Linked DNA regions of Homo sapiens: region 1 is linked to region 2. The links come from fine-mapping of genetic effects on gene expression. A gene starts in region 2. The other region holds a variant in brackets. All regions are shown on one strand. Distances are from middle to middle.

Evidence for each region. PIP is the estimated chance that this variant, and not a neighbour inherited with it, causes the effect.
Region 1: its variant is the best candidate, but not a certain one, in a credible set for the expression of TNFRSF4 in whole blood (INTERVAL, PIP 0.79).

What each region holds. Positions count from the first base shown.
Region 1 is chr1:1,247,417-1,256,550 of GRCh38, forward strand. It overlaps UBE2J2 (ubiquitin conjugating enzyme E2 J2), which reads right to left. Exons shown (of 7, transcript NM_058167.3): 6 at 8,629-8,709; 7 at 6,496-8,071. The coding sequence ends at 7,787. Among named protein-coding and RNA genes, the nearest start is that of C1QTNF12, 5.3 kb to the left of the region's middle. RefSeq lists enhancers at 1-30, 31-811, 3,738-4,017. The variant C/G (reference allele first, on the strand shown) is at 5,197.
Region 2 is chr1:1,210,167-1,219,300 of GRCh38, forward strand. It overlaps TNFRSF4 (TNF receptor superfamily member 4), which reads right to left and starts at 3,987. Exons shown (of 7, transcript NM_003327.4): 1 at 3,817-3,987; 2 at 3,497-3,619; 3 at 2,826-2,927; 4 at 2,472-2,538; 5 at 1,776-1,972; 6 at 1,538-1,666; 7 at 1,174-1,459. The coding sequence starts at 3,961. The coding sequence ends at 1,389. SDF4 (stromal cell derived factor 4) reads right to left here. Exons shown (of 7, transcript NM_016176.6): 5 at 8,603-8,761; 6 at 8,292-8,467; 7 at 6,765-7,522. The coding sequence ends at 7,346. RefSeq lists a silencer at 3,065-3,114.

The DNA.
Region 1 (9,134 bases), 37 kb after region 2:
GCTCAGTGGCTGGAGGAATGGGGTGGCCAGGTGGGGCTGGAAGACCCTCCAGCCGCTGGTCCTGGCCGAGGCTAACAGTGGCCCAAGGTCAACATGCCGGCCCTGATGGACAGCTCGGAACACTCCAGACCCTCCCCTCTTGCCAGACACGAAGGTAGCCACGCCGAGACCCCAGCGTCAACCCCAGCCCCAGGCCACATCCACAGGCAGAGCCACGGGAGACCAGGCTGGGATGGGGATGACGCTTGGGAACCCACCAGGGACCCCGGCTGCCCCCTCGCCCTCCGGGCTCTCAGGCACTGACTGGCATCTCCAGAGAGCACTGTGGAAGCCTCCCGGCCCCGTGTCCGCTCGTGAAGGTGGTGGAGGACCCTGGGGACACGGCACAGCGCCCACACAGTACCAGCCCTGCTGGACCCCCGCAGGTGAGCCCTGGATGTGGCCTGCATCTAGCATGGGTCGGGAAAGGCAGCCCCAACACCCCTCAATCCAGGCTTGGGGCAAAGGGAGGGGTGGGCAGGTGCCCTGGCCAAGGAGACCCCCCGCCCAGGGCTACCAGACCCCTCCTCACAGGCAGGGCATCCAAATTTTCTCTGTCACCCACTGGCAATGAGCTCCCCTGTGACTCTAGACAGAACAGGCTGGATCTCCAACTCTGACCTACAGGCAGGAAAGTGGGCAGCCCTGGGAGGCTGGACTGAGGGAGGCTGGACTTCCCACTCAGGCCTACACGCAGGAAAATGGGCAGCCCTGGGAGGCTGGACCGAGGGAGGCTGGGCCTCCCACTCCACCCTACAGGCCAGGACACGGGCAGCCCTGGGAGGCTAGACCGAGGGAGGCTGGGCCTCCCATCTACCCTACAGGCCGGGACACAGGCAGCCCTGGGAGGCTGTACCGAGGGAGGCTGGGCCTCCCCCTCTGCCCTACAGGCAGGAAAACGGGCAGCCCTGGGAGGCTGGACCAAGGGAGGCTGGACTTCCCACTCTACCCTACAGGCAGGAAAACAGGCAGCCCTGGGAGGCTGGACCGAGGGAGGCTGGGCCTCCCACTCTGCCCTATAGGCCGGGACACAGGCAGCCCTGGGAGGCTAGACCGAGGGAGGCTGGGCCTCCCACTCTGCCCTACAGGCAGGAAAACGGGCAGCCCTGGGAGGCTGGACCAAGGGAGGCTGGACTTCCCAATCTACCCTACAGGCAGGAAAACAGGCAGCCCTGGGAGGCTGGACCGAGGGAGGCTGGGCCTCCCACTCTGCCCTACAGGCCGGGACACAGGCAGCCCTGGGAGGCTGGAGCAAGGGAGGCTGGGCCTCCCACTCCGCCCTACAGGCCGGGACACGGGCAGCCCTGGGAGGCTAGACCGAGGGAGGCTGGGCCTCCCACTCTGCCCTACAGGCAGGAAAACGGGCAGCCCTGGGAGGCTGGACCGAGGGAGGCTGGACTTCCCACTCTACCCTACAGGCAGGAAAACGGGCAGCCCTGGGAGGCTGGAGCGAGGGAGGCTGGGCCTCCCACTCCGCCCTACAGGCCGGGACACGGGCAGCCCTGGGAGGCTGGAGCGAGGGAGGCTGGGCCTCCCACTCCGCCCTACAGGCCGGGACACGGGCAGCCCTGGGAGGCTGGAGCGAGGGAGGCTGGGCCTCCCACTCCGCCCTACAGGCCGGGACACGGGCAGCCCTGGGAGGCTGGACCGAGGGAGGCTGGGCCTCCCACTCCGCCCTACAGGCCGGGACACGGGCAGCCCTGGGAGGCTGGACCGAGGGAGGCTGGGCCTCCCACTCCGCCCTACAGGCCGGGACACGGGCAGCCCTGGGAGGCTGGACCGAGGGAGGCTGGGCCTCCCACTCCGCCCTACAGGCCGGGACACGGGCAGCCCTGGGAGGCTGGACCGAGGGAGGCTGGGCCTCCCACTCCGCCCTACAGGCCGGGACACGGGCAGCCCTGGGAGGCTGGACCGAGGGAGGCTGGGCCTCCCACTCCGCCCTACAGGCCGGGACACGGGCAGCCCTGGGAGGCTGGACCGAGGGAGGCTGGGCCTCCCACTCCGCCCTACAGGCCGGGACACGGGCAGCCCTGGGAGGCTGGACCGAGGGAGGCTGGGCCTCCCACTCCGCCCTACAGGCCGGGACACGGGCAGCCCTGGGAGGCTGGACCGAGGGAGGCTGGGCCTCCCACTCCGCCCTACAGGCCGGGACACGGGCAGCCCTGGGAGGCTAGACCGAGGGAGGCTGGGCCTCCCCCTCTGCCCTACAGGCAGGAAAACGGGCAGCCCTGGTGTAGAGGGCAGCCCTACAGGGTTTGTGGGTTTTTCTCCCCGTGTGCGGAGATGAGAGATCGTAGAAATAAAGATACAACACAAAGAAATAAAAAAGACAGCTGGGCCCGGGGGACCACTACCACCAAGATGTGGAGACCGGTAGTGGCCCCGAATGCCAGGCTGCGCTGTTATTTATTGGATACAAGACAAAGGGGCAGGATAAGGAGCGTGAGCCATCTCCAGTGATAGGTAAAGTCACGTGGGTCACGTGTCCACTGGACGGGGGCCCTTCCCTGTTTGGCAGCCAAGGCAGGGGCCAGGGAGAGAGAGAGACAGCTTACGCCATTATTTCTGCTTATCAGAGACTTTTAGTACTTTCACTAATTTTGCTACTGTTATCTAAAAGGCAAAGCCAGGTGTACAGGATGGAACGTGAAGGCGGACTAGGAGTGTGACCGCTGAAGCACAGCATCATAGGGAGACGGTTAGGCCTTCGGATAACTGTGGGTGGGCCTGACCCTCCACAAGAGGTGGAGGAGTAGAGTCTTCTCTAAACTCCCCCGGGGAAAGGGAGACTCCCCTTCCCAGTCTGCTAAGTAGCGGGTGTTTTCCCTTGACACTGACGCTACCGCTAGACCACGGTCTGCTTAGGTCACGGGTGCCTTCCCAGGCGCTGGCGTTACTGCTAGACCAAGGAGCCCTCTGGTGGCCCTGTCCGGGCGTAACGGAAGGCTCGCACTCTTGTCTTCTGGTCACTTCTCACCATGTCCCCTCAGCTCCTATCTCGGTATGGCCTGGTTTTTCCTAGATTATGATTATAGAGCGAGGATTATTATAATATTGGAATAAAGAATAATTACTACAAACTAATGATTAGTGACACATATGGTCTATACCAAGTATAACTCTTATTTTATATATTTTGTTACACTGGGACAGCTTGTGCCCTCGGTCTCTTCCCTCGGCACCTGGGTGACTTGCTGCCCTCACCCTGGGAGGCTGGGCCTAACTGGGAAGGATGTGGCTTCGTGTTCCCAACCCCAGGCACCTTTAAAATGAGCTGAGCCTGGCACCCAGGCAGGAACACTCAGCCCCCATGCTCCCTCTAGAAGACGACCAAGAGGACCCCACCCTCTGGGTCACCCACCAAGGATCCAGGGTACCCTGGGCCACAGCCACGAGCTGCTCACAAGGGGAGGCTCAGGTGCAGCTGCTGGCTCTGCTCACCCCCTGCACCCCCCAACGCAGACACCCTGACACCCCCCGGCCCTGGAAAAATGGCAAAGGACCACGGTGCCCTGCCCAGCCGCCTGCTGCAGGGAGAGCAGCTCCCTCAGACCCGGAGTGCTCTGCTGTGCCGGCTGGTTCATCAGCACTCAGGCAGGCCTGGGCATGCGCTCACAGAGAAGCTCGAGGTTGCCAGAACACAGGAAACGCCTCTTCTTTCCTGTGACCACGAGGCCACGTGCTCACCTGTCTGCAGAATATCAACTTTTAAGGGGCTTTTCTCTCCTCATTAAAAGACTTCACAGTGTGCTCTGCATGGCGAGGGGACACACCGTGCTCCCAGGGGGAAGTCAAGGACGGCCTCCACCGGTGACAACACAAGAACAGAGGGGCCCACGATTCCTCTAAGGGAGACGGGGACAGAGGGTCAGACGTGCCCGGCCCAACAGGCCAAACATCATTTTTTTTTTTTTTTTAGACAGAGTCTCACTCTGTCAGCCAGGCTGGAGAGCAGTGGCACGATCTTGGCTCACTGCAACCTCCACCTCCTGGACTCGAGTGATTCTCCTGCCTCAGCCTCCTGAGTAGCTGGGATTACAAGCACATGCCACCATGCCCGGCTAATTTTGTATTTTCAGTAGAGACAGGGTTTCACCATGTTGGCCAGGCTGGTCTCGAACTCCTGACCTCAGGTAATCTGCCCACCTCAGCCTCCCAAAGCGCTGGGATTACAGGAGTGAGCCACCACGCCCGGCCCAAACATCATTTTTTATTTTGGGCCAGTGCGGACAACATGCCACGGGCACCACCTTCACTGCTTGACCGATGATCGCTAAAAGTTGAGATTTCAGTTGGGCGTGGTGGCTCACGCCTGTAATCCCAGCACTTTGGGAGGCTGAGGCAAGCAGATCACGAGGTCAGGAGTTTCAGACCAGCCTGGCCAATATGGTGAAACCCCGTCTCTACTTAAAATTAGCTGGGTGTGGTGGCAGGCACCTGTAATCCCAGCTACTTGGGAGGCTGAGGCAGGAGAATCACTTGAACCCAGGAGGCAGAGGTCACAGTGAGCAGAGATCACGCCACTGTACTCCAGCCTGGGCGACAGAGCAAGACTCCGTCTCAAAAAAAAAAAAAAAGTTGAGATTTTAGTCGGGCGCGGTGGCTCACGCCTGTGATCCTAACACTTTGGGAGGCCGAGGCAGGTGGATCCCTTGAGCTCAGGAGTTCAAGACCAGCCTGCGCAACATGACGAAACTCCATCTCTACAAAAAATACAAAAATTAGCCAGGCATGGTGGCGCACACTTGCGGTCCCAGATATGTAGGGGGCTGAGTTTGGAGGATCCCTTGAGCCCAGGAGGTCACCGTTACATGTGGGCGGCAAGCCACCCAGGTGCCGAGGCAAGAGACCGAGGGCATGAGCTGTTCCAGTGTAATAAAGAAAATATACACAATAAGAATAGTTACACTAGAAATAGATTATAGATGTGATGATATATGAATATTCTTAATCATTAGTTTCTAGCATTACTCTTCATTCCAATATTATAATAATCTCTGTTCTACAACTATAACCTAGGAAAAACCAGGCCATACAGAGATAGGAGCTGAGGGGACATAGTGAGAAGTGACCAGGAGACAAGAGTGTGAGCCCTCTGTCACGCCCGGACAGGGCCACCAGAGGGGTCCCTGGTCTAGCGGTAGCGCTAGCGCCTGG[C/G]AAGGCACCAGTTACTTAGCAGACGGGGAAAGGGAGTCTCCTTTTCCCCGGGGGAGTTAGAGAAGACTCTGCTCCACCATCTCTTGTGCAAGGCGACATCAGTCAGGCCCACCCGCAGCCATCCAGAGGCCCGTCTCCCCGTGATGCTGTGCTTCAGCGGTCACACTCCTGGTCTGCTTTCGTGGTCCGCCCTGTACACCGGGCTCCGCCTTCTAGATAGCAGTAGCACAATGAGTGAAAGTACTAAAAGTCTTTGAAATACATAGAAGAAAGAATGGTGTAAGCTGTCCTCTCTCTCTCTCCGCCTCGGCTGCCAAACAGGGAAGGGCCCCCTGTCCAGTGGACACGAGACACACGTGACCTTACCTATCATTAGAGATGGCTCACGCTCCTTACCCTGCCCCCTTGCCTTGTATCCAATAAATAACAGCGCAGCCAGGCATTCGGGGCCACTACCGGCCTCCACATCTAGGTGGTAGTGGTCCCCCGGGCCCAGCTGTCTTTTCTTCTATCCCTGTCTTGTGTCTTTATTTCTATGATCTCACATCTCTCCGTACACAAGAAGAACCCACAGGCCCAGTAGGGCTGGACCCTGCAGTTACAGGGAGCCATGATAGCACCATTGCACTCCACACTGGGCAACAACAGAGCAAGACTTTGTCTCCAAAAAACAAAAAAACAAAGTTGAGATTTCACATCTAGACGACATTTGAGACAGGGTCTGGCTTCGCTGCCCAGGCTGGATTGCGGTGGCTCCATCATGGCTCACTGTAGCCTCCACCTGCCGGGCTCAGGCAATCCTCCCACCTCAGCCTCCTGAGTAGCTGGGACCAAAGGTGCACATCACCACACCAGGTAGTGTTTTGTATTTTTTGTGAGATGGGGTCTCACTACATTGCCCAGGCTGGGTTCAAGAGATCCACCCCTCAGCCTCCCAAAGTGCTGGGATTATAGGCGGCAGCCACTGCACCCGGCAGTAGCGTGTTGAGTAAACACTCTATTCGTTAGCATTCCCCCTCCCATGAGCCTCGGGAGACACCGGGCTTTGGAAGTGATGCTGGCGGTCACAGAAGCGGAGATCAGGGCAGGGCTGGCATCCAGTACGGGATGGGGAGAGAGCCCTGCAGAGGGCTCTACACCATGGCTCCAGCGACGCGATTCCCTGTGGGGACCCACCTGCCCTGCAGCTGCCACACCACCCCAGGCCAGCAGGTGTGACCCCCTGGTCACGGGCCACCCCAGCCCTGAGCACAGAGATGGACACACATCCCGGCCCACACAGACACAAGCAGCATGAAATTCAGAAATAAAGATATAATGAAAGACCTTTTTTTTCCACAAGAATAGGTTAAATACATACAATTGGTAAATTATAGAGCAATTCTGAATAAACTGATCAAAAAACGAAGAAAGATGAGCGCGTGCGGGCTGGGCTTGTCTCACGCCCGCCTCCGGACAGGGTGGGTTTCTTGCCGGCGGCCGTGCCCCACCTCGACGCGATGCACCTGCGGTACATCCCACCCAGGCGAAGTCACGGAACAGACGCAGAAGAGGGGAGACGGCCGAGACCCGGGGAGCCACGCGGCCCGAAACAGCCCCTGCTGGCTCTGGCGTCTTTCCGGGCCGGGGTGCCCCTCTGCCATGTTCCGTGGACAGCGAACACCCGGGCCGGAGCCATTACCTACTGTGAAGGCCAGCGCAGGGGGCACGGGATGTGAGGGAGGCCCCCGAGTGCACGGGGCCTTCTGCAGGGACTCCGGTCCTCCGCCTTCCACCAGCATAGGAGGACGGGCTTCTGGCCCACCGGACATAAGGAATTCAGAGAAAAGGCTCTGCAGGTACCCAAGGCCCCCCAGCCTGCAGCACCGAGGGGCGCCCAGGAGGCCCGGCCTGCGGAGGGCACCGGCAGCCCCCGCCCCGCTCGCGGCCGCCGCAGTCAAGGGCGACTTGTGGTTGGAGTGAGCAGGCTCCTGGCTTCCAGGGCAGCAAAAACCCCCAAGCACTTTCTAGAAGGAATGTGTTTCATTCTGACTGTAAACACATTTGTAAATGCTGAGACCAAACCCCGACTTATGGATCCTGAGCCACGGCCGTCACTGGCCCCGCTAAGCCTCATCACCACACGGCCAGGCCAGACCAGCACCCGCGGACGCCAGCTCCACCCCTGGGCCCCGAGGTTCCCACCCGCTGAGGAGCCGGGAGCTCCGAGAAACGCGCCAGGAGCTCCAAGAACGCAGGAGCAGCCCGCGGTCGGCAGCAAGTTTGCATTTCTAAGTGACCACATCTAATAAAATGAAAAACGGGTTTACTAAAACAGGTCCAAAGACAACACGGAAGATAAGCTACAAATCCAGCACACAAGGCCCACCCACACCAGCCCCAGCGGCCCGTGGCCAGGACAGGGCTGAGGCTCCAGTCTCCTCCAAAGCCCAGTCACACATTTTGGTTTTTGCTTCCCCTTTCAGGTTTTTAAAAGCTAAACCTAGGAGCCTGGTGGGTCTGCCTGTGCTGGGCAGTGTGTCCAGCCTGCCGAGGTCACGCTCTGGTGCGCGGTGCCCTCAGTGGCGCCTTGGGTCTCGGCGCCTGGGCCTCACTCCTGCGCGATGCTCCTCAGCACGTACTTGACCGTGTAAGCAAAGGCTGCAAACCCAACTATCACAAACAAGTTCGCCAGGGCGCCACCCAGGAGTCCGTGGTGCCGGTTGGCCTGCTGGAGCCCTGCGAGGTTTGGGACGGCCCCCGGCGCATGCCCGTTGAGCAGCTGAATCCCGTTCTGGACGAGGTGCGTCTCCCCGTCTGGAACCACGTCTGGCAAGGGGAGAGTCTGGGGTCTGCTACTGAGTTCGTCTTGTGCTTTCTGTTTTTGTTTAATCTCCTAAGAGAAAAACAGCGAGAAAAGCAGCTGGTCTCCAACCAGCGCCTTTCAGGACCAGCACTCCCGTTCTCAGGAGTCCACGGTCCACCACCAAGAACCAAGCCCTAGGCTGTGTCAAATTCCGACCCCATCTCACAGGTGAGGGCCCGAGCGTGGCCGGCCTCACTGGCCCTGTGCCCCTTGGCCCCTGCACTCAGGCAGACCAGAGCAAGGCTGAGCCACAGAGGCCAAGACCAGGGAGCACTCCAGTCCCAGTCCCACATGGCAGCCGCTGTGCCTCCCAGCTATCCCCAGACACCACCCAGCTGGCTGCTCAGAACCACGAGCTCCACGCCCCTGTGGGACAGGCCCAGCCCCCGGCCCACCAGCACAGCTGTCCGCAGGCCACCCCCCAGAGCCCAGGCTTTCTGCCTCCCCTGCCTCGGGGCTCCTGGGGGAGAGGAGCCATCCCCTGGGGAGGTCTGCAGCTTCAGGACACAGATTTTACTCTTTGGAAAGAGGTGAAACTCAAGTGTTTTAACGCAGGGGAAGGCGAAACCCACTTCCGTCTTTCTTACCTCCACGACTTCAGGAAATAATTCACAAAAGACTTTATCTTTCAAATTAAATGCTAAACTCTGCACTGCCAGTTGTCTTTTCTAGGAAGGAAGGGAAGGGAATCAGCCAGAAAACTAATTTCAATTCTTTCAAGATTCTAAAAACAGATGATTTCAAAGTCAAGGGCTGCAGTCTTCGTGTTGCAGAAAGCATTTAATAAGCACACTCTTCACAGCAAACTAACTTATAGTCTTACAAAGCCTTCTTAATCTTCCCCCCATCAATTCATGATATCACACTTGATTCCTATTAAAGACAGGGAAAAACAAGCCACCAAAGCACCGGGCTCCCCGCTGACAAGGCCCGGGCCGTCTGTGCAACTGGTACCGCCTTGGCCCACCCCAAGATCCCAAGGAGGAGCCCCTGGCGGGTGTGGATGAGGCTGGATGTGGATAAAAGCAAGACCGAGAGGCAGCGGGGAACACGAGGCCACAGAGCAAAGCAGTCTCCACGACAGTGCCTGGGA
Region 2 (9,134 bases):
TCAGCCCCTGACACCATGGAGGCGAACAGGCACCTCCGCCTCCCGAGGGACACAGATGTCGCTTAGACGCCCGGGGTGTCTTCCCTGCGGGAAGCCTGCAGGGCTGCTCCCGCCTTGTTCCCGAGCTGTGGCCTCGGGCGTGACTGGCGCTCGGGAGCAGGCTCTGTGCTGCTCGAAGGATACCCCACTCCCAGACACCAGCTTGAGAAGATTCCCGCACGGCCGGGGACGGCCCCAGGGCCTTGGGAGCGTCTGTGGACACCTGTGGTGTGGGCCGAGGAGCTGGGAGCTCATCTGAACACGCCAGCACTCGCGCATCCACGCTGCTGGCGGATGCCTGGGTTTCTCCACTGTGGGGCCACGTTACATGAAGTCGCTGTGGTCATTCTCATTCAGATCCCAGGACTCTTAAGTGCGCAGGAGTGGGACGGCCGGGGCCCAGGGTGGACAGAAAGTTGGCTCAAGCAGAAACTGTGGTTTCCAAGGTGACTGTCCCCCTGGACACCTATGGCAGGGACATAGGGGCCGTGTGGGCCCTTTGCAGGGACTCCTCGGGGTGCTCAGGGGCCCTGGGACCCCCTTCCAGGTGCAGCAAGGGGTGGGCGTAGGTGTGGAGGGGAAGAGGGGCAGGTCTCTACACTCCTCCTCCAAGGACACAGAGCCCCGGGGGTCAGCCACTCCCAAGCTCCTTGGGCAACCCGGGGCTCAGGGGCCAGCTGCCCTTGTCAGCGCCTGGCCAGGAACCTCCACCCCAGGCAGCCTTGGGCCTGAGCTTTCCCAGTCTCTCCCCCCGCTCCCCACTCAATCTGGAACTCGCACCCAGGGACCAACCTCCAGGGTCCCACTTGACCCCGCTACCCTCACCTCCACCCTGGCCCAAGACCCCTCTCCAGCCACAGGTTGGCACAGCCCAAGTCTCCCAAGACCCCTCTCCAGCCACAGGTTGGCACGGCCCAAGTCTCCCAAGACCCCTTTCCAGCCACAGGTTGGCACGGCCCAAGTCTCCCAAGACCCCTCTCCAGCCAGAGGCGGGCACGGCCCAAGCCTCCCAAGACCCCTGTCCAGCCAGAGGCGGGCACGGCCCAAGCCTCCCAAGACCCCTCTCCAGTCAGAGGCGGGCACGGCCCAAGCCTCCATGCCACAGGTGTGCAGCCCACAGTGCCGGTCGGAGACTCCCGTCTGCCAAGGTTTTTATTGTGGTCCCGCGGGGCAGGAGGTATGCATGGCATACGTAAGCAGAGAGCCGGAGGCAGCCATCGGCACCTAGAACGGTGCAGAGTTGGCCCAGGAGCGTGGCGGGGCAGGCGGCCTGCACCTGCCCTGCTCGCCCAGCAGACCCTCCGGGCTCCAGCCTGGCGGGGCCCAGCGTCCACCTTGGTGGGCCCAGGTCAGATCTTGGCCAGGGTGGAGTGGGCGTCGGCCTGCTCCTCTTGGATGGGGGTCCGGAAACTGCCTCCCCCTGGGGAGGAAAAAAGGAGAGATTGGTGGGTGGGCCTCACCCGCCAGGAGCAGTGCGGCAGGGCCATGAGGCACTCACCAGGGGGCTTGTGGGCATCGGGGGGCAGCCTCTGGTCCCTCCGGAGCAGGTACAGGGCCAGCAGGATGGCCAGGGGGCCCAGCAGCCCCAGCACCAGGCCCAGGCCCAGGATGGCGGCAACCGCACGGCCTGCAGGAAGGGGTCTGCTGGGTGGGGTCCACAGGAGGGGCCCCCATGCCGCCCTCCCCTTCTCCTATTCGGGTTGGGGGCCCCGCTGGGCTGGGCCAGGCGCCCTTACCCCCGGGGACCTCCACGGGCCGGGTGGAGGGTCCCTGTGAGGTTCTGGGCCAGGCTTCAGTGGGCTGGACAGTGATGGGCCTGGCCGGGGGGCCCTGGGTCTCCTGGGGCTGCGTGGCTGGGGGGTCCCTGTCCTCACAGATTGCGTCCGAGCTATTGCTGGCCGGCTGCAGGGTGTGCTTCCCAGCCAAGGTGCAGCTGTTGGGGAACAGGAGGTGTTGCTCAGGCCAGAAACCCCCTGGGACCCGGGAGATGCGGTGGGGATAACAGGGTCCACGCTGGCCAGCCACAGGCAGCATCTACCACAGACACCAGGCCAGTGACAGCCAAGGACGCTGCCCAGCCCCACGTGCCCCCCACAGGGGCCTCCAAGGCCACACACCCTTCTCCCACATCTACACCCCCCACCAGCACCTCCCTGTCCTGTGCCCCCAGGGCCTCCCAGCTGCGGAGGGTGAGGGTCCCACACACCCAGCTCCACCCACAGGGAAAGGCTGCCCCCAGGCAGCAGCTTCCTGCTCCCCAACCAGGTCCAGCCACATAGCCAGGCCCCCAGGGCCACCAGCACCTCCCCTTCCCCCAAAACTGCCCCCACCCCACCTGCCCCCCCAGCCCCTCCCAGCTCCCCAGCTCCTCCGCCCTCCTAACCACCCCAACCCCCCCCCAGCCCCTCCCAGCCCCTGGCCAGGCCCCTCACTTGGTCCAGGGCTTGCAGGCCTGGTTGTCGCCTGGGGAGAAGTGCCCTGGAGGGCAGGGGGCACAGTCTGCAACAAAGATAGGGTGGTCAGGGGCTGCCCACAGGCCCCGGGTGCTGGGGACATGGGGCAGAGCCTGTGGGGCAGGCACTTGCCCCCCATGGCTGGGTGGTGGGTTTGGCCTCTGGAAGCCCTCCCTGCCCACATCCCACCCGTGGGCCCTGACCCGGGAGCTCGGTCTTGAGGATGCCAGAGGAGGCACCGGTGGGGCCAGGTCCCTGCGGCCCACGGCCCATCTGCGTCACAGACAGCCGCTATGCACACCCCCAACCGCCGGCCGCAGCCACCGAGCTCACCAACTCCAGGCTTGTAGCTGTCCAGGGGCTGGGTGCCCGCCCGGCAGCGGCAGACTGTGTCCTGTGTGGCCGTGCACAGCTGCTTCCGCTCACTCCCACTTCCTGAGCAGGGGCCGGATGGGGGGGTGGTCAGGTGGGGGCTGTGGACAGGGTCCTCAGGAAGCGTGGGCACTGGAGGACAGGTTGGCCTCCCCACCACACAGAGGGCCGTGGGCAGGGGTCTGCGGCCTCCCCTGAGACTTGGAGCCCCTGCAGCCCCCGAGGCTCCTGGGCCCTCCCTTCCTGGCCACAACCTGGGGCTGGTTCCGTGGCAGCCCCAGCCACCCTTCCCTACCCCTCCACCGCCTCCAGCCGCCAGCCCCGCCTGCGGCAGGGTCTCCATGGCCCAACCCCCCAGCCTCACTGCTCAGGCCAGCAAGGCCAGGCCACATGGCCAGCGTGGTCTCCCCGACTCCACGTGGCCTGGGCCGAGTCTGGGCCCCCGGAGGGAGAGGGGGTGCCCCTGGGAGACGCCTCAGCTCCTCGAAGGACCCCTGTGGCGGAGCAGACCCCGCTGTGGTTTGAGGTTCGTTTCTGCGGCTGTGGGAGCCCCATGCTGCTGCGTGGGAATGTGGGTGCCAGGCTGCCGCCCCCTGTGCTGGGTGGGGCTGTGGGGCCAGGTGGGAGCTCACTGAGGTTACACCACGTGCAGGGCTTGCACGGCTTGGAGCTGACCACGTCGTTGTAGAAGCCCGGCCCGCACGGACGGCACACCGTGTTCTGGGAGCGGCTGCAGCGGCTCACCATCCCGTTGCCTGCAGCAGAGGCCGGCGTCAGGCAGCGGTCAGGCCCCAGGCTTGCGCCCGTGGACCCCCCCAGGCGGCTCCTCTGCCAGGCTTGGCCGGCCCCTCACCCGCCCCCTCCCCAGGACCAGCCTCCTGGCTGGCCCATCCCTGCCCCAGCCCCCAGTCCCTGGAGTGCCCGTGCGTGGCGACCCCTCCTGAGGCCTCACCTGGCCTGCACTCGTGGCAGCACCGGTCGTTGCTGGGGTAGGTGTCCCCGACACAGTGGAGCCCCGTCACGGTGCTCAGCCCCAGGCCCAGGAGGAGCAGAGCCGCACACGGCCCGCGGCCCAGCCGCCGAGCCCCCACGCACATCCTCGTCTCTGCTGTCGCCAGAGTCTGGGTTTTCCTTGCGGGGTGTGGCTATAAGGACTGTGGAGGAGGGGAGGGGAGAGGGGAGGAGGGCAGAGGAGGCGGGAGGAGGAAGGTGGCAGGCCGGGGACCCTGGCTGTGGGCTGGGCACAAAGGCGGGGTCTGGGCACCCCCAGCATTGGCTTATTCTGCCTTCTGACCTCTTCTGCCCAAGACCACCGTGTTCAGACCCCAGGGCACAGTAGGGCCTGGCCTGCGGCTCGACCCTCAGCAAAAAGGTCCATGGAGCACGTGGGTAAACTGAGGCAGCACTGAGTCAGGAGAGGCAACTCCTCAGTCTGGACCTTCAGGGCTGTGGCACTGCTGAAGCATGGTCCCCCTTGTATGCCCAAGACTAGCTCTGAGCAGCAGTGACCACAGCCATGGTAAGACAGACACCCATGGCCAGGCACGGTGGCTCCCGCCTGTAATCCCAGCACTTTGGGAGGCCAAGGCGGGTGGATCACCTGAGGTCAGGAGTTCAAGACCAGTCTGGCTAACATGGCGAAATCCCGTCTCTACTAAAACTACAAAAATTATTCGGGCGTGGTGGCGGGCGCCGGTAATCCCAGCTAGTCAGGAGGCTGAGGTAGCAGAATCACTCGAACCCAGGAGACAGAAGTTGCAAAGCAGAGGTGGCGCCACTGCACTCCAGCCTGGGCGACAGGGCGAGACTCATCTCAAAAAAAAAAAAAAAGACACCCGTGACCACAGCCCACGCTGAGTGTGCCTGAGCACGGCAGGTGTCTATGGCTGAACTGTGCCCCTTAAATTCCTGCGTGGAAGCCCTAACCCCCATGTGGCAGTGTTTGGAGACAGGCCTCTGAGGAGGTGGTGAGGGTGGGTCCTGGATGGCCTGGCGCACACGGGCACGCAGGCAGGTTTCCACCTTCTATGCAAACAGTTCTCAGGTTCCAGGTTTGCCCAGAGGATGCGAACTGCCCGGAGAGCTGGGGAGCAGGTGCGGGGCTGGGGGCTCCCTGGGCCCTTTCTGCACCTTTCAAATAACTGTGACCAGCCTGTGATTATCCAAAAGTTCATTTTTGAAGTTGCAAGTGGAGAGGGGCCTCTAGGAACAGAGCAGCAGGGAAGGGGCTGGAAATCCCCTCCTCCCAGGAGCACAGGAAACAGCTGCCTGTCCTCGGCCCACCCGTGGGGAAATTCCCAGCCGTGGAGCCCGCTGGCCCTGGAGAGGGAGGGAGTGGAGGGAGAGGCCACCCGCCCTCGGACTGAGGGTCCCTAAGTTGGTCACCCTCCCCACGTCCCCACAAGTAGAGAGGACCCTGGAAGGGCTCAGAGCATCCCAGACAGTGTGTGTACCTGCATGTGCACACCCCAACCCAGGTGGGCAGAGGAGGAAAGTTCTGGCATTTTGTGGAAGGTTCCACCCAGCGTTCACAAGGGTTTCCCACTGACAGTGAGAAAAAGCTTACATTTGCAATTGGTTCCTTGGAGGTTCAGGTGAACTGGGGGTCTTGGTGGGCAACACTGCTCTCCTGGGGCCTAAGTGGCCACATCTGCCCACAGGTGCAGTGAGTGGGGCCCGTGCACCATGGAGAGGGCACCCCCAGCATATTGCTGGCAACTGCAATGGCCCCAGGATGGGGCACGGCCCCTCCTGCTTGAAGCTGCCCAGGAAGCTCAGGTCTCCTTGTCCTGGGCTTAAGGTCACAGGTCCAAGAAAGCCCTGCTGTGTCCATGGAACCGGGTGTGGCGTGGCCACAGGAGGCTGGACACTGACCCAGAGCTCAGGACCCCCAAGGTCTGTAAGGCAGCCTGCAGCTCGAACCACATCCCCAGGAGCTGGGCTCCCCGCTCCACACAGTAGTGTCGCGGGCGGCACAGGGCAGCCCATGAGTGGCCACTGCTCCTCCAGTACCAGACTGGAGCTGGCTGGGGCCTCTGAAGGGCCAGGTGCCACCACATACCCAGCTGTCCCCCCGCCTTCATGTCCAGCACAGCATGGCCTCAGCTCACACCTCCCACCTCTGGGTGCACGGCCCTCAGCACAGGGCGTCGAATGCTGCTGCAGCTATGATGGTCCCTGGCTGTGGCCTGGGGCCACGGATGGGGAAAGACAGAGTCCAGGCCACCGAAGGTTGGCTCCAGGGAATTACAGCCCCTTAGAGCAGGGCGTGGGACCATCCTCCCACCACCTGCGCTGGCCGTGGCTCTGTGAATCTCGTTTGCCTGGGAACCAGCCCAGGTGCCAACCCGCCCTCTCGGCCCCACAGGGGCCCCTGGGCAGGTGGGCTCAGGGCAGAGGCCGGTCACATGGGCACCACAGGGCAGACTGAAGAGGACACACTCCCGGCTTCCCTGAGCTCCCACTGGGAGAGCCAGGACACAGCCTGGGCCCCCACACGCCACAGAGCAGGACCCCCACCAGCCGTCCTAACACACCCCATTCTCTGCCCCATCTGGGGCTAGGCCTGCCCCACTGCACCCAAAGACCTTGCCATCCTCCACCCAAAACCCCCAGGCGGCTCTGTCTCCTGCCTTAAATGTCCAAACCCCAAACTCAGTGGGCACGTCTGCTGCCCCCTGACCCCTACTCACAAACGCAGCGCTGCCCTCCGTCCTCCCAGAGCCCCTGCCCGTTGCCACCTGCCAGGAGAATCACCTCGAACCGGCCATGACCTCCAACCCTCCACGTGACCCAGCACCAGCCTCCAGCGCTCCAGTGGAAACTGTAACCACAAACCTAGCACGCTGCTGTTGTGTTTTGTTTCACGCCCAAAGAATGAAGCTGACCAAAAAAGGCAACTATATTTAAAGTAAATGTATGTGATTCTTGTCACAACAAATATTTGCATTTTCTCAGCGGCAGCTGCGGGACCTGGGTGGCTCCGACACGCCAGGCCCGGGAAGGACCCGGCACCCTCCCCTGAACTTCCTGGCTACTCATTTCCAGCGAAGTTTAATCTATTTTTAATAATCGTTCAGTTTTCAAGGAAATGGAGGAGCTGTTTTTTCCCACGGAGCGGCGGCCCTGGGAGGGGCCGGGCCCAGAGGTTCCGGCCGCGATGCCGTCAGCGCCTTCGGCAGAGTGACTGAAGCGAGATTTCGTTCTCAGAAGTGAGATGCCACGATTTCGAGGGACCAGGGAGGAGGCGGCGCCGCGGGGCCACAGCCCAGCCCCGCGCCCCGACCGCGTCACAGCCAAAGCCCCGCCGGGGTGCGCGCTGCAGAGGGGACACGCCGCTCATCAACTGGGGCAGCCGCGGTCGGTCGGCCGGTGGCGGGCGGCAGGGAAGAGGTGGGGTCCGGGACAGCCACGGAGCCCGGAGTCACCCGCGAGGCCGCCCCGGTGGTGCGTGGGGGGCGGCGCGGGGCGCGGCCGGGCGCTCAAAACTCCTCGTGCACGCTGCGCGCGTAGTCCACCAGCTTGCTGCCCGTGAAGAACTCGCTGTACTTGAGCACCTCCTCGGGCTCCAGGTGGTGGTTCTGGTTCTCGTCGGCGACGGCGATCATCTGCTTGGCCTCGTTCAGCGCGTTGTACTCGTTCATGGGGTCCATGTAGCTCTGCGGGCGAGCGGGGCACAGGTCAGCGTCGCCTTTCCCCCTCCGAGCTCCGCGGCCAGCCGCACGAAGTGGCTATTTAAGGTGCCTATTGGCTGCAGCGGGAGTGTGGGCACGTTCTGGAAGGTTCCCGAAGGGAGGCGGCACAAATGAAAACACAGGGCAGGGAGAAGCCGGGGGCCCCGGAAGGCCTGCCCGGGGCCAGCAGGGGTAACGGGGCACAGGGGCTACACAGGCCTGGACCCCAGTTCTGAAGGATCCCTAACCTGGGCCGGGCCCACTGGCTGTCGCCAGGAATCACAGGATTCTACATAAAAACAAGATGACTCACTCAGCAGTGGGAGAAAAACAAGCCTACACATGATACCAGTGAAAACGCTTCAGAGGAAGGTGGTAAATTCCAGCCATGTGGCACAGGCCGCCCCGCCCACCTGCACCTGCTGGGCCTTGGACCTGCCTCCATGCTGGGCCCAGCATGAGCTTCCCCTTGTGGTCCCGTTAAAAAGGGGCTGTGAGAACCCTGACGCCTCCGCAAGGGGCTGAGGATGGAGCCCGGCCAGGCTCGCCTGTCTCTGATCCGTCTGAACCTAAACGCCAACAACGGCCATGCAGCCTGGTGGACACCGCTGAGCAAACGCCCCAGTGACCAGCCCAGATGGAGTCTCAGGCCAGACACCAGCACAGCTTCCTGCCTCAGGCCCAGATCCACCAGCCCCTCCCGCCACAGCACCTCGCAGGGCCGGCTCCGGGACACGGCTGCGCCAGGGCTCACCTCCAGCTCCTCGGCGGTCACGATGCCGTCGTGGTTGGAGTCAATGAGCTCCTCAAACTCCTTTTTTCTGTCTTTCACCCAGTTGTCGTCAATGTCCTGGCCCTGCTGGTTCTCCACGGTGCCCACGGGCAGGGAGATGAACTCGGGCACAGAGAGCTGCTTGTCACCGTCCTGGTCTGCGAGACGGGAATGGGTCAGCCCACACCCAGGCTGGGGCTCCCGCAGGACCTGCCCCGACCTCCCGACGATGCCCGGCCCCTGCCAGTCGGTCCTGGGTCCTGGCGTGCCGGCCAGGCTGGACCCAGCCTCACCCAGGTCCCGGACGATCTCCTTCACCATGAACCTGAGCATTCCCCGGCTGTGCTCGGGGTGGAGGAACGACAGGAACTCCTCCTCCGTCAGCAGCAGGTCTGCAGGGGGGCTGTCCGCCTGGTACCAGCGGTCCTTCAGGTTCTCCAGGACTTCCTGTGCTGAGAGGGGCGCAGCCTGTGGGTATCGAGGCCGACAGACGCCAGCACGCAAATCCAGAAAGTTCCGAGAGGTGCTGCCTGAACTCGAGGGACACAGCCACCCGCGAGACCGGGGCCCCACCCTCCAGGATTCACACGTCCCCAGAACATGGCCCAGCCCCTAAGACACAGCCTGGACCCCCGCCAAGACATAACCCAGAGCCTCCCACAGGCCTGATCCCCAAAGGCATAGCTTGGACCCCTCCACACAGCCCGGACTCCCCAAGACAGCCTGGACCCCCCCCTGCCCCAGACCCCCAATACATGGATGGCCCTGACTCCCCACAGACACAGCCCAGACCCCCAGGACATGGCCTGGACCCCCCACACAGCC